Regions from separate parts of the Homo sapiens genome. Here region 1 is linked to region 2. The links come from fine-mapping of genetic effects on gene expression. Tissue or cell type: tibial artery. Region 2 holds a variant in brackets; the other region holds the start of a gene. All regions are shown on one strand. Distances are from middle to middle.

The links. PIP is the estimated chance that this variant, and not a neighbour inherited with it, causes the effect.
Region 1: it holds the start of TOX4, and the variant in region 2 is fine-mapped to the expression of TOX4 in tibial artery (GTEx, PIP 0.97). The same link has a PIP of 0.9 or more in nasal epithelium.

Annotation. Positions count from the first base shown.
Region 1 is chr14:21,473,718-21,481,816 of GRCh38, reverse strand. TOX4 (TOX high mobility group box family member 4) reads right to left here and starts at 4,622. Exons shown (of 9, transcript NM_014828.4): 1 at 4,533-4,622; 2 at 4,253-4,321. The coding sequence starts at 4,538. It overlaps RAB2B (RAB2B, member RAS oncogene family), which reads left to right and starts at 4,858. Exons shown (of 8, transcript NM_032846.4): 1 at 4,858-4,990; 2 at 5,218-5,289; 3 at 6,883-6,950. The coding sequence starts at 4,945. RefSeq lists enhancers at 4,672-4,741, 5,322-5,441.
Region 2 is chr14:21,504,439-21,512,544 of GRCh38, reverse strand. METTL3 (methyltransferase 3, N6-adenosine-methyltransferase complex catalytic subunit) reads left to right here and starts at 1,205. Exons shown (of 11, transcript NM_019852.5): 1 at 1,205-1,421. The coding sequence starts at 1,322. RefSeq lists an enhancer at 923-1,162. The variant G/A (reference allele first, on the strand shown) is at 3,371.

The sequences.
Region 1 (8,099 bases), 31 kb after region 2:
ATGTCTGTCTTTTTCTACTCAACAAAATATTGTTTAGATTATCCAATTGCATTTATAATTTAATTTTTTATATCTGTGTAGTATTCCTTTTCACAAATACACCATTTTTTTCTGTTGATAGACATGAGTTGTTTTCAGGGTTAAGCTAGTAAGAATAAAGTTGTTGTGAACATGTTTTTGGTGAACATATGCAATCATTTCTGTTGTGTACATATCATGGAGTGGAATTTACCTGGTCATAGGTTAGGGGGGCATGTTTATCTTTAGTAGGTACTGCTAGTTTTCCAGTGGCTCAATTAACTTACACTCTCACTAGCAATAATTAAGTTATCCACATCCACTGGGCAAGGTGGCTCACAGCTATAATCCCAGCACTTTGGGAGGTTGAGGCAGGTGGATCACTTGAGGTCAGGAGTTTGAGACCAACTTGGCCAACATGGTGAAAACCGGTCTCTACCAAAAATACAAAAATTAGCCAGGTGTGGTGGCACATGCCTGTAATCCCAGCTACTCAGAAGGTTGATGCACGAGAGTTGCTTGAACGTGAGAGGTGGAGGTTGCAGTGAGTCGAGACCGCACCACTGCACTCCAGCCTGGGTGACAGAGCAAGACTCTGTCTCAAAAAAAAAGTTATCCACATCCTTGCCAACTCTCACTGGCAATTTGGACGTCTTCTTTTGTGAAGTGACTGTTCAAATCTTTTGCCTCCTTTTATTTTATTTTTTTGAGACGGAGTTTCTCTCTTGTTGCCCAGGCTGGAGTGCAATGGTACAATCTCAGCTCACCACAACTTCCACCTCCCAGGTTCAAGCGATTCTCCTGCCTCTGCCTCCTGAGTAGCTGGGATTACAGGCATGCGCTGCCACACCCGGCTAATTTTGTATTTTTAGTAGAGAAGGGGTTTCTCCATGTTGCTCAGGCTGGTCTTGAACTCCCGACCTCAGGTGATCCACTCGCCTCAGCCTCCCAAAGTGCTGGGATTACAGGCATGAGCCACCACGCCTGGCCTTTGCTTCCTTTTAAACTGGATTCTTTCTTTTACTCTGCAGAAGTACTTGATATATTCTGAATATGAGTTAGATATATGTATTGTAAATATCTTCTCCCAGTCTGTGGAATGCCTATTTGTTAATCATGTTTTTTGATGAAAGGAAGTTCCTAATTACAGTGGAGTCCAATTATTCATTTTTTTTAATGGTTAGAACTTTTTATGGGCAACTACTTTTTTGGGGGAGGGTCGGCAAAGTCTAAAAATTTCCTCTCTTGTAAAAAAAAACTTTTTTTTAATATTACCTTTACCTACTTCTAAGATATATTTGGAATGGCTCACAGTAAAACCATAACCCCATTAAAATAAAAGTTATAAACAACCATTACCACCGCTACCAAGGGAAAGGGAAGGTGTAGAAGTTGTAATGAGAAAATGGAGAACTGTTAACAATGACAGGAGCCTTAGGCAAAGGAAGCTACTGAAATTGAGCCTAAAACTTAGCTATCAGTTTCTTGGCAAAATAAAATAAGATTTCTTAAGTCACAAAAACAAAAACAAAGGACAGATTCAAACCTGGAAAGTTTCTTTCTTTTTTATTATAATATTACTTGTTAATACTTTAAATTTACTTTTCTTCACTATACACCATGATTCTTCATGGGAAGTTTCTTGATGTGAAAAGGAACCACTTCTGTCCTGGCATGGTGGCTCACACCTACAATACTAGTACTTTGGGAGGCCAAGGTGGGAGGATCGCTTGAGCCTAGGAATTTGAGACCAGCCTGGACAACATGGTGAGATCCTGTCTCTATTAAAAACAAAAGCAAAAGCAAAAAGGAACCACTTTTTTAAATGTGGCTACCTCTTGATTGTTCAACTTCATAAATGGGGTAGAGAATTAAGAACAGTGGGTAAACTTGAAAGCTACTTGTATTTAATTTTAAAATGCACTTTCTCATGAACGAGGCCAACGTAAAATTTATAACACTCTAAATAACAAAATTTAAACTGTGGAGACCTGATTGAGGAGAAATTGGGAATTTCATGCAGGTAAGTCCAATGTGAGATTTGCAACACTCAAATAATGAAATTTAAAAATGAAGATCTCACTTAGAAGAAAATGGCAACTAAGAGTGCAAAGCACCAAGCAGATTTTAGCTGTTTTTGTTTGTTTGTTTGAGATGGAGTCTCACTCGTTCACCTAGGCTGGAGTACAATGGCGCAATCTCGGCTCACTGCAACCTCTGCCTCCCAGGTTCAAGCGATTCTCCTGCCTCAGCCTCCTGAGTATCTGGGATTACAGGCGCGCACCACCACACCCGGCTAATTTTTGTATTTTTAGTAGAGATGGGGTTTCACATGTTGGTCAGGCTGGTCTCGAACTCCTGACCTCGTGATCCGCCCTCCTTGGCCTCCCAAAGTGCTGGGATTACAGGCATGAGCCACCGCACCCCGCCTCACCTGTTTTTTTAAAATTAATTATTATTATCTTTTATAGAGACAGAGTTTGATCACGTTGCCCAAGCTGGTCTAGAACTCTTGGGCTCATGCAATTCTCCTGCCTCAGCCTCCCAAACAGTTGGGATTACTGGCACGAGCTACTGTGCTGGGCCCAGATTTAGGTTTTATATCATTTCAAAGTTTGCTGCATACTAGATTCACACTTATCCTGCTTATGAGAATAATAAATAAAAGCAACAAAAAAGTTAAACTGGCACTGGGCACATTGGCTCATGCCTGTAATCCTAGCACTTTAGGAGGCTGAGGCGGGCAGATCACTTGAGGCCAGGAGTTAAAGAGCCTGGGTAACAGGGTGAAACCCCGTCTCTACAAAAATTCAAAAAAAAAAAAAAAATTAGCTGGGTGTGGTGGCGCACACCTGTATTCCCAGCTACTTGGGAGGTTGAGGCAGGAGAATCACTTGAGCCCAGGAGGTGGAGGCTGCAGTGAGCCAAGATCGTGCTACTGCACTCCAGCCTGGGCTACAGGGAGACTGTCTCAAAAAAAAAAAGAAAGAAAAAAAAAGTTAAACTAGCAACTGGCCCTTGTCAACCCCATTTTCATCCATGAAAACGTTAGGATTATAGGATAAGCCCATGCAACAGCCACTGACAATTCTTGGTAAAAAAAACTGATGCAAATGGTCCACACCACTTTTGAAAATAAATATAAAAGTCCTCAAAAAATGGCAGATGGTTCAAGACTTCAGTTTCTCAAAGACAGAAATTTTTGTCTGTTCCACCATTCTCTTTTGCCTCTCCCAAACAAGTGATACATATCTATATTATGACAATATTTCAACCAAACTTTTTTAACGAACACTTCAGGGTTTCATCATAACCTTTACTTCTACTTTAAAACAGCATAAGAAACTATAATTACAGCTGTTTGACAGCTGGGGAAACTGTGACATACAAAGATGAAGTAATGTGCCCAACGTCTGAGTCACTGGCAAATTGAAACACATGTCCTACTCAACTCTTTTATATTCTCTAGCAGCTATTTCCTTTCCTCCTGACATTAGCAAAACAAGCTGACACCATGTAGGTAAAGGTAACCACAAATTTTTTATCAAAGTAGGAAATTTAGGCCGGGCGCAATGGCTCAGGCCTGTAATCCCAGCACTCCGGGAGGCCGAGGTGGGTGGATCACCTGAGGTCAGGAGTTCGAAACCAGCCTGGCCAATATGGTGAAACTGCCATCTCTACTAAATATACAAAAATTAGCCGAGCGTGGTGGCGCACGCCTGTAATCCCAGCTACTCGGGAGGCTGAGGCAGGAGAATCGCTTGAACCCAGGAGACAGAGGTTGCAGTGAGCCGAGATCGCACCACTGCACTTCAACCTGGGCGATAAAGCGAGACTCTGTCTCAAAACAAAAGAAAACCAATAAGCTCCTCCCCTCAACCCCAATTTCTTCAGCTGCTGAAACATTTTCTTTCCACTGCGATCCCCTAAGATTACTGTAGCTATTTCTCCCCAGAGAAAGGAGACAATTCCACTCTGTCTTCTAATCCAGAATCCCTTTTCTCTTTAAACAGGTTATCTCTTTCCAATACCTTGCTTTCTGATGACAGCAACTTCCCAAGACTTCCCCAGATAGTCCCCACAGGCTCTAGAAGCAACCGCCACTTTTCTCTAAACACCAATTGCGGCCCTTGGTTCCCAGCCCCCGTCCCCGGAGTCCGTGCTCTCCTCCCCACTACCCTACCCCACCGCTGCCTCAGGCCCTACCCCCGCGGCGTCGGCAGCTCTGGCTCACCTCGGCCCCTGACAGGAAGGGGTGCGAAGGCCCTGTGATCGTCAGGTAATTGTCATTTCCTCCGGGAAACTGGAAACCAAAAGAAAGTCGCGGGGATAAGTTAGGGGGAGCAGGGAGTCAGCTTGGAGCGATGGCTTTTGACCCTGACATTCTGACAACACTCCCCAAACCCCGCTCTCTCTCCTCTCCCGTCAGTCGCCTCTCCGCCCGGCTTCCCGTCCCTGCTTCAACCCGGTCGGCCGCGTTCTCTCGCCAGCCTTCTTAGCTATCAGGTTCCTACCTCCATCTTCACACAACCGCTCCCACCGTCTCAGACCCTCATCGCTCCCACCGCCCCCACTGGACTCGGAACTGCCGTCACTTCCGCAAGGACGTGTGTTCTCTCTGCTGATTGGAAGGAGCGCCGTGGGGCTGCAGAGAGTCAGGCGCTGGGCTATCGCCCCCTGGAGTTTGGAGGGATAAGGGCATGTAGAAGTGCTAGAAGCGTCCCTGGAGGTGGCGTAGGGTACTCCCGACCTAAGGATGATTCCGGGGAGTGCAATAGAGACGTGATCTGGGCTAGAGGAGCCGGAGGGGCGGGGGAGCGGGGGGAAGGGGGAGAAGAAGAAGATCGGTAGATTGAGTGGCTAGAGAGGTCGGAGGTAAGTGGCTATAGAAGTCGGGCGGACCCGGAACCCAGAGGACGCGACACCATGACTTATGCTTATCTCTTCAAGTATATCATCATCGGAGACACAGGTAACCCTCAGGTGGTTCGCCTTCAAGGCTCGGGCGGGCATTCGAAGCTCCCAAATTGGGTGGCGGGGGCGGGGCTCACTTTGTGGGCTGGGCGATTCGAGACGGGCGGGGCGGTTCGGGGCGGCCGGGGGCGGGGCTCGGGAGCCCCCCTTCTCTGGTCCGGGAAGTCCATACTCTGGAAGGTGTTCCAGGGCTGCGTGATTCCGGGAGTGTGCTTTCTCTTTCAGGTGTGGGGAAGTCATGTCTCCTCCTGCAGTTTACAGATAAGCGGTTCCAGCCTGTCCACGACCTCACAATAGGTAAGTGCATCTACTTGTTCCAGAACAGATGATAAAACCTGACTAGCTAAATTGCTAAAGTGGAAAGTTAGCAGCCTTCAGTGTTCGAAGTAAAAAGTTACCCCTCACTACTTTAAACTAGTCCAAACTTATGTTAATGAAGTGACCAATGAAACGTTGATATGTGGGGAGTAGTGTAAGGGAGAGTATATAATTGAAAGGTAACTTTTTAGAGTGTGAGGTATAGACTCGTCATATAATTTTTTTTCAAATACAATTTGTATGTTTATGGAAAATCCCACGAAAGCATAACTGCTTATTTATGAACTCATCTGTGCTTTGAGGTAAATTAATACCAGCCTTACTTTTAAAAAGTAAACACCAATACATGGACATTTTTTATATTGGTGAAGAAGCAAATTGAGGAGTCATCCCTGCCTTAGAATTAATAGGCAAATAAAACTAAAAACTTTCCTTTTAAATGAAAGAGTGTGTTAACAGTTCCTCAAACGCACTGGCGATCCTGGAAAATATTAACCTTTCCCACACGTTTGTGATAAGGCATGGCCTGAAGAGGCTTTTAACTACCCCCTCTTCGTTATCTCCGTAACCCCAGTCCAAATAAACAACATATATGAAACTAGCTTTCTTGCCATGCAAATGCAGTTTCTAAATAAACCCCTACATCCCCATTCTTACCATATTGCTACTTCCAAGTCCCACCTGTATGGAAACCTGAAGCTACCACTGTTCCTAACGGATTTATTTAGAGTCAAATAATTGATGGGGTTAGAAAAGGATTTGGCAGTATCAACTAAAAGGTATTTTAAAGGGAATATTGAGCGAATTCTCACTTTGCGATAGGGGCTAATGATACAATGCTTAACAAGGCAACAATGCTTAATTGTGCCTCTGGCAATTATTGGAAATGTAAAATGTATTGTTAAAAAAATTAGGTGGGCGTTGTGGCGTGTGCCTGTAAGGTACTTACTTGGGAGGCTGAGGCAGGAGAATCACTTGAACTCAGGAGGTGGAGGCTGCAGTGAGCTGAGATCGCACCACTGCACTCCAGCCTGGGTGACGGAGCGAGACTCCATCTCAAAAAAAAAAAAAAAAAAGTATTGTTTCTGAGAACCTATTTCTTAGGCTCTTTTCTTAAAGAAAAACATCTGGAATTGCAAAAAAATAAATATTGTTTTAAGTAGAGACTAAAGAGTGACTGAGAAAGTGTCAGGAAATATTTCCAAAATTTTTAGTTTTTTGGAAAAGTTACAAAACTAAATGTTACCTAACCAAATTTAAGCATTAACCTAACATTGCTAAAAAAGTATTCACCTTTTTAAATTTGACTTCTTAATTGGTTTTATTTTCCCATATCTGCTTTTTGGTTACATTCCTGAGGTCATTGAGCACAATTTTTTAATTCTAGAAGGGAAATGAAGAACCTTAAGAAACACAAAATTAATTGGAGCAAATAGGCAGCAATAATGGAATTAGTGGCATTGAGTTCAGACAAAGGATGGTTATAACACATTGAGGAAAGGCAGGAACCTCCCACTCCACGTGGCTGCTGTTCGTGAGAATCACATTCTTTCTCTCGGTCTTTACCGACAGGTGTGGAGTTTGGAGCTCGTATGGTCAACATTGATGGAAAACAAATCAAACTGCAAATCTGGGATACGGTGAGAGTACAAAATAATTTAGTCTCTGACCAATATCCAAGTATAACAAGAAAAGCTGATGCAAAGGAAAGGGGCGATGAGGGTGGAACTAATGGTGGGGATAAAGTAGGGGAAAGGTGAAATCAAAGAGAGAAGTTTTTGATTCTGTTACAGTTACAAATTCTGGATGCTGTATCTTTGTGTTGTAAACGATCCAAGTAATAGTTTATTCTAGTAAAAATAAAATCAAACAATATAAATTTATAGAATAGAAAGTAAATGTCCCCTTTTGATACATAAACTCTTTCTCCCTTCCCATCTTGGTTGGTACTCTAGCAGGGAAATCATTACTGATGATTCCACGTGTATGCTTTCAGACTTTTTCTATGCATTTAGATACATACATGTAAACACATAGAAATATATGGTAGTAGTTTTGTTTTTATTAGTGTTTACATGTATAGAATCGTGACAGAGTAGACCTAGTTGTGTGACTTAGATTGTATATTAAACAATCTCTATGTTGTGGGGACCTTTCCATATCAATACATATAGATCTGTCTCATTCCTTTTAACCACTGCGTAGTCATGGAATGTCAGTAGCATGATTTATGTAACCATCATCCTACTGATAGAAATTTGGGTTGTTTTCCAATTTTTAAGTATTGCAGAATTTCACTGAGCATTCTTTTTTTTGAGACAGAGATTCACTCTTGTCACCCAGGCTGGAATGCAATGGCGTAATCTTGGCTCACCGCGACCTCCACCGCCTGGGTTCAAGCAATTCTCCAGCCTCAGCCTCCTGAGTAGCCGGGATTACAGGCACCCACCACCACACGTGGCTAATGTTTTTTGTATTTTTTGTATTTTTTTTCTGAGACGGAGTCTTACTCTGTTGCCCAGGCTGGAGTGCAGTGGCGTGATCTCAGCTCACTGCAAGCTCCGCCTCCCGGGTTCGTGCCATTCTCCTGTCTCAGCCTCCCGAATAGCTGGGACTACAGGCGCCTGACACCACGCCTGGCTAATTTTTTGTATTTTTAGTAGAGAGGGGGTTTCACCGTGTTAGCCAGCATGGTCTCGATCTCCTGACCTCGTGATCCGCCCGCCTCAGCCTCCCAAAGTGCCGGGATTACAGGTGTGAGCCACCACTCCCGGACGTTTTTTGTATTT
Region 2 (8,106 bases):
AGGCGGAGGTTGCAGTGAGCTGAGACCACGCCATTGCACTCCAGCCTGGGTGACAGAGTGAGTGAGACTCCATCTCAAAAAAAAAAAAAAAAGAAAATGTGTCAAAAAAAGAAAGAAAGAAAGGATTGTAGGAAAAACCACCACCACCAACCTTGTATTTAAGTTTACTACACATACAGAAAAGTGCACACCAAAATGTTCAGCTCAATTACATTTCACAAACTGAACACACTCATGCAGGTAGCTCTCATAACAAAAAACACAACGCAACCAGGACCTCAAAGCCCTCTTAGTGTCGGAACCCGATTTTAATAGATTACACGTACTTTGTAAATTTAGCCTAAGAGAGAGATCACGTATTTGAAGACCTCTCGGATTTTTCCTTCATCAGCCCTCCCCACTTCCCCACGCCTCGTCAACACAAAGAAGCATGCCCGCACCCACCACCGCCCCCTCCTCACCTCAGATTGGGGACCACCGTTGTGTTTTTTATTTTTTTGTAAATGAACGCATGGAAACAAACCAACACCACCTTCAGTGGAAAAGGTATGTTAGTACCAAACTGTCAAAAGGAACTAGTGATCCTTCATCTTAAAAATCTGTACTATGGCCGGGTGTGGTGGCTCACGCCTGTAATCCTAGCACTTTGGGAGGCCAAGGAGGGCGGATCACGAGGTGAGGAGTTCGAGACTGGCCTGGCCAACACAGTGAAACCCCGTCTCTACTAAAAATACAAAAAATCTGCCGGGCGTGGTGGCGGGCGCCTGTAATACCAGCTACTCGGGAGGCTGCGGCAGGATAATCACTTGAACCCGGGAGGTGGAGGTTGCTGTGAGCCGAGATCGCGCCATTGCACTCCAGCCAGGGCGACAGAGTGAAACTCCGTCTCAAAAAAAAAAAAAAGAAAAAAACCCCCAAAACTGTACTATATGGTGTTGCTCTCTACGAGTGCTACTTTAACACAAGTCAACTCTCAGGACTCCTCTCCGAATATTCAACATGGCCGCATGCGCGTCTATAAGCAACATGGCCGCTCTGCCAGTCACCAACATGGCAACCACAGCCTCACTGTGTCCGGAAGCATGAGAGAGCGGGTATGAGGACTATACCGGCCGCTCTGCCAACACCTAACGTGGCTCTTTATAGCTTCCAAGAAAGCGCGACACCGGAAATGACTTTTCTGTCTTGCTCAGCTCCAGGGGTCATTTTCCGGTTAGCCTTCGGGGTGTCCGCGTGAGAATTGGCTATATCCTGGAGCGAGTGCTGGGAGGTGCTAGTCCGCCGCGCCTTATTCGAGAGGTGTCAGGGCTGGGAGACTAGGATGTCGGACACGTGGAGCTCTATCCAGGCCCACAAGAAGCAGCTGGACTCTCTGCGGGAGAGGCTGCAGCGGAGGCGGAAGCAGGACTCGGGGCACTTGGGTGAGGCACTGGGCTGTTGGGGCCGAGGCTCAACCGGGGAGGACGGGCGGGATCCCTAGAGAAAAAGCTCCAGAGTCACTGCCCTTTACCAAACGGCCATTTCTATAAAGCCTCGTACATTGGTACTCCCTCTCCACCTTCAGCAGCAGACGTTCGCCCTTCTGCAAGTAGTTCGCGGTTCCTCCTCACGCTGGGCCTCGGTTCTTCCAGCTCACTTTTACCGGACGGACGCTTGAGCCCCACCCTCGTCCGCCTTGCCCACTCCTCTTCAGACTGCGAGGACGTCGCCTTTGTGAGGCTGCTCAGCCCCCTATCCCGCGAAGCAGCAAGAACCCCTTTTTGTTGCTGCTTTGGCGCTTTGTTCCCTCAGTTATAACGACTGTTTTGTAGTGGTCATTTCTTGGCAGCTGTGGGTACAGTAAGCGAGGAATGAACCTTTATATCCGCAGTGCCCAATTTAGTGGCCCGTACAGAGTGGCACTGGGTGTTTCTGAATGAGTACCCCTACCGGCATTGACTTAGCCATTTACATACCTAGCAGGAATCTGAAAACATTTGTGTTTGGTTTCCAAACTTTTTCTCTTCTCCTGTTGCCCCCGTGTCACGATCATAAAACTTGAAGGAAATTTAAAAGATTAAATTCACTGTTATCCACTCCCTACCCTCAGGACAAACTCTGAATTATTTAAGGCAAACTAGTAACAAAGCTCTGCAAAAATAGTGACTCAGTATCACCTTTGTGGTAGATTGTTCCAATATTTGTCAGTATCTTCAACTGCATCTCTAAATCTTGTCTAGATCATGTTAGGTTCATGTGCTCGTATTCTGGCCCCTAGAAATAGAAGATGCACTGGCAGGATCCTCCCACCTAATTAATTACCTTTCTTGAGTATCTACAGTGTTCATGGGTCTAATTAGACAAAAATAAGGAAGAAATTGCCCCTGTCCTCAAGAAGTTTAAAAAGCATAGGATTCAAGGGGAGACGCTTACAAAAAGTGAGGAATATGATAAGATATATGTACGAAACCAAATGAATGAATCTACAGTCTGTACAATGAAGAGAAGTAACAAGAGCTGGTGTAGGTAGTGAAGCCATCAAAACCATCATAGTGGAATTGGCACTTGAATTTGGCCTTTATGGCTATATAGGACCTAGATAATTAAAGAGGTAAGAGGGGAGGATAGTGGAGTAAGAAGTGCAAGTCATATGGTCAGGCAATAATTAGTAGTCAAGTCTCAGAGTAGTTCCTGAATTACCTAAGAGGGAGAATTTTTTTTCCCTTGCTCTAGAAACTTCATTGATTTATTTATAGATACAATTTTTTGTTTTGTTATGTTTTTTCCCCTATTCTTTGGTTTCCTGTTTTGAAACTTTTTAAAAATGTGCATAAATGATGCCAACGACTTTTTTTGCTTTTGTTTTTGAGATAGCGTCTCTCACCGTTGCCCAGGCTGGAGTGTAGCAGTCCTCCCGGCTCATCCTCCTGAGTAGCTAGGACTACAGGTGCATGCCACCATGCCTGGCTAATTTTTAACTTTTTAATAGAGATATGGTCTCATTATGTTGCCCAAATTTGTCTTGAACACCTGGCATCAAGCTGTCCTCTTGCCTAAGCCTCCCAAAGTGTTTGAATTACAGGTGAGAGCCACCATATCCAGCCTATTTAATTTTCCTGTGGAGTCTTTTCCCATTCAGCAATGGCAGTTGCAAAAGGGGACCTGAGGATCAGGTAGTTGTTTGTTTCAACAAAGTGATCTGCAAAATTATTTAGTTAGTTAGTTAGAGACAGGGTCTCCCTCTGTCACCCAGGCTGGAGTGCTGTGGCATGATCATGGCTCACTGCTGCCTTGACTTCCCGGGCTCCAGCGATCCTCCCACTTCAGCCTCTCAAGTAGCTGGGGCCACAGGCGTGTGCTACCATGCCCAGCTATTTTTTGTATTTTTGGT[G/A]GAGAAGGGGTTTCACCATGTTGCCCAGGCTGATCTCTAACTCCTGAGCTCAAGCAATCCACTCACGTTGGCCTCCCAAAGTGCTGGGATTACAGGCGTGAGCCACCATGCCTGGCCTACAAAATTAACTTTTAAAAAGCCGCTATATTGGTGTACTACATCATTGACTACTTTGTGTTCACCTTTCTGTCGTTTTTGTGACAGGCCATCCTCTATCTGTGGTGTTGTTTGTTGTTTCTTGGTTTTAATTGTTCCTCATCATACTTATTTATTTATTTTTGAGATGGAGTTTCGCTCTTGTTGCCCAGGCCAGAGTGCAATGGCGCGATCTTGGCTCACCGCAACCTCCGCCTCCCAGGTTCAAGTGATTCTCCTGCCTCAGCTTCCTGAGTAGCTGGGATTACAGGCATGTGCCACCACTCCTGGCTAATTTTGTATTTTTAGTAGAGACGGGGTTTCTCCATGTTGGTCAGGCTGGTCTCAAACTCCCAACCTCTGCTGATCTGCCCGCCTCAGTTTCCCAAAGTGCTGGGATTACAGGTGTGAGCCACTGTGCCCGGCATCATACTTCTTTATACTTTTCCATTTCTAAATTCATACTCTTTCAATGAATGATTCTAATTGCTCTTGGTCATTTTAAGTTTCATTTCATTTTTCTATGACATTAACTACATTTTGGTATTAACCAAACTTTCTGCTGTATGCAGACCTAACTACTAGAGCCTTGATACTTTGATCCAGGTCCTTGCTAAACATGTTTAATATTTTTGACAATAAGACTGTATTCTCCCTGCATGTACATATCCTTTTTTATTTTTATTTATTTTTTCTTTTTTAGATGTGAATATCTCTTGATTTGTATATTTAGCTAGTAATATAGCTAAGACCCTTTTCTGTGTGTGTGTGTGTGTAAGATAAGAATCTCGTTCTGTTACCCAGGCTGGAATTCAGTGGCGTGAACACAGCTTACTGCAGTCTCGACCTCAGGGCTCAAGTGATCCTCCTGCCTCAGCCTCCTCCTGAGTGGCTAGCACCACAGGTGTACCCTACCATGCCTGCCTACTTTTTAATTTTTATTTCTTTGTAGAAACAGGGCCTTGCCATGTTGCCCAGGCTGGTCTTGGACTCTTGGGCTCAAGCTATCCTCCCACCCTGGCCTCCCAAAGTGCTGGGATTACAGATGTAATCCCAGTCTAGTTAAGACTCTTATAAAAGTATTTTTGGGGTTGTAATTAAATGTATCTTGTCTTCTGACCGAGAGCTTGATCTGACCCATCATTTGGTACTGTGGTAATAGGTAAAGATGAAACATACAAATTAAACCAGAATGTCACTGTTCTTTCTGTGTTATTTTGATTATTTCAAAGAATGTATTTTGTTGAGCTTTAGGATTCTTAGGAAACCCTTGTGAAACACTGTATTGTAAGTTTATGAATCATGTTGTCATGTAAGATATAACTCAAGACTTGATAAAAGTTCAGATTATTCCATTCGTTTCTCACCGGAAATAAAAATTTGCCTACCACATCTGTTGCCCAGGCTGGAATGCAGTGGCGCGATCTCGGCTCACTGCAAGCTCCGACTGCCAGGTTCACGCCATTCTCCTGCCTCAGCCTCCCAAGTAGCTGGGACTAAAGGTGCCCACCACCATGCCTGGCTGATTTTTTTGTATCGTTTTTAGTAGAGACGGGGTTTCACAGTGTTAGCCAGGATGGTCTCGATCTCCTGACCTCGTGATCCGCCCATCTCGGCCTCTCAAATTGCTGGGATTACAGGTGTGAGCCACCGCGCCCGGCCACACCTTGTTTTTTACAGCATTACTGAAATCTGATAATTACCGACTACTGAACTGAGTGTCAAAAGACAAGGATATAAAATGAACTAAAATGTACCCACCACATCGTTAATAGTGGAAAATAATATGGGCAAAATATTGGGAGACCTTTGTTAGATTGGCATTTTTATTATTTATTTATTTATTTATTTATTTTTTGAGACAGAGTTTCGCTCTTGTTGCCCAGGCTGGAGTGCAGTGGTGCCATCTCACCTCACTGCAACCTCTGCCTCCTGGGTTCAAGCAATTCTCCTGCCTCAGCCTCCCGAGTAGTTGTGACTACAGGTGTCCACAGCCTTTGGAAGGCTAAGGCGGGTGGATCACCTGAGGTCAGGAGTTCAAGACCAGCCTGGCCAACATGGTGAAACTCTGTCTCTACTAAAAATATAAAAATTAGCCAGGTGTGGTGGCAGGTGCTTGTTGTATGTACTACAGGCACATACAACCTTGCCTGGCTAATTTTTAGTATTTTTTGGGCAAAACGCCCAACAGGGTTTTGCCATGTTGCTTAGGTTGGTCTTGGACTCCTGAGCTCAAGTGATCCTCCATCCTCAGCCTCCCAAAGTGCTGGGATTACAGGCATAAGCCTCCATGCCTGGCCTCCTTCCTTTTGAAGGATAAATAATATTCCACTGTATGTATATAACACATTTTGTTCATTCATCCATGGGTGGGCGTTTGGGTTACTTCTACCTTTTGGCTATTGTAAATAATGCTGCTATGAACCTGGGTGTATGAATATCTCTTTGAGACCCTGCTTTAATTCTTTTTTGTTTTGTTTTTTCTTGAGACGGAGTCTCGCTCTGTCACCCAGGCTGGAGTGCAGTAGCGCGATCTCGGCTCACTGCAAGCTCCACCTCCTGGGTTCACCCCATTCTCCTGCCTTAGCCTCCTGAGTAGCTGGGACTACAGGTGCCTGCCACCACGTCCGGCTAATTTTTTTGTATTTTTAGTAGAGACGGGGTTTCACCGTGTTAGCCAGGATGGTCTCGATCTCCTGACCTCGTGATCTGCCCGCCTCTGCCTCCCAAAGTGCTAGGATTACAGGTGTGAGCCAACCACGCCCGGCCGAGACCCCGCTTTAATGCTTTTGGGCATATACCCAAAAGTGGAATTGCTAGATCATATGGTAATTCTATTTTTGATTTTTGAGGAAGCGCCATCCTAATGGGTGTTATATATCTCATGTTGGTAAAGTATATTTTTTTAAAAAGAAAAATATTACTTAAAAAAATCTTTATTTTGGCCTTGGCAACAGAGCAAGACTCCGTCTCAAAAAAAAAAACTTTATTTTAATGGAAACAAACTATATTTGGCCAGGTTTAGCACATAGTAAATATGTGAAGTGCTCCAGTATATTTCTTGAGATTGAAGATGTGCATATAGATGTTGACACGTTTAAGGATTCAGCAAATTTGTAATCAGACCATATTAATTTCAGTGGTTCTCTTAATTAAAGGGTGAATCAAGTGTTATGTATTATTTTGCTAAACCGAACACATTATTTTCGTTAGATTAGAAGCAGAATGTCAGTGTAGTTGCAGCAGAGCGGAGGCATTGAGTAAATGTGTTGAATAAATAAATGAATAAATACCTTATGAAGGATTTGGAACCCAGGGATTCTTATCATTTTCTGGACAGTAACCGGTTTTAGGGATGATAAAACTTTTCCCCAAATGTCTGTATACATACAAAACTTTGCACGTGAAAAGTTTAGGGAATTTCACCTGAATAACAATTGTATTAACCAGCAGTTAAGTTTTATCCACCACATTAAACATAAGCTCCCTCCTCCTGATAACCTTAAAAAAGGTATTTTCAGCTCTAATATTCTGAATGTAATGTTGGGGAAAAAAAACCTCCCAGGAGGTGTTATTAATACAAGGATTCATAACCAGAATTACATCACCAGATATTGGAATGAGCAGTATTAAATCAGTCAGATTACCAATGAGAAAAGTCAATACCAACTTGTAAGGACTGAAATATTTATGTTAACATGGTTCTTTTTATAGATTTCTCACTTAAAAATTTTCTCACTCACTTAATTACTCAAAGAACATCTTCAGTTACTAACTGGAGAAACTGAAAATGAAAGAAGAAATGGGTGAGAGTGGAATCCTCCCACCTCAGCCTCCCCAGCAGCTGGGACTACAGGCACAGGCCACCTTGTGTGGCTAATTTTTAAAAAAATTTTCTTTAGAGACACTGGGTTTCACCATGTTCCCCTGGCTGGTCTGGAACTCCTGGGCTCAAGTGATCCTCCCACCTTGGCCTCTCACAGTGCTGGGATTACAGAGATAAGGCACCACACCAAGCCCTGAGTCAGATTTTAATAAATTCAGTTTCCATTAGAGTGGAAAATTTTCAAATTAATGAATTATTTATTTATATATTTTTTGAGACAGAGTCTTGCTCTGTCGCCCAGTCTGGAGTGCAGTGGCATGATGTTGGCTCACTGCAGCCTCTGCCTCGTGGGTTCAAGCAATTCTCCTCCTTCAGCCTCCCCAGTAGCTGGGATTATAACCTTGCATCACCACCCCCAGCTAAATTTTTTTTTTTTTTGTATTTTAGTAGAGATGGGGTTTCACCATGTTGGCCAGGCTGGTCTCGAACTCCTCACCTCAAGTGATCCACCCACCTTGGCCTCCCAGAGTGCTGGGATTACAGGCGTGAGCCCCAGTGCCTTACCAGAATGGAAATATTTAAGTAAACAAAATATTTCTAAATGTAAACTAATGGCCTACTTATTTAGCAATTTCAGTTCAGTTCTTAGGAGTTTAATATTTCATCTATATTTTAATTAACCACAGATATTAGGCTTTCTCAAAGATAACATTTTGTCCTAATTTTAGTTTCTCAAATCGTTATTAAGGTTATGATGGCAACCCAGCTTGTGAAG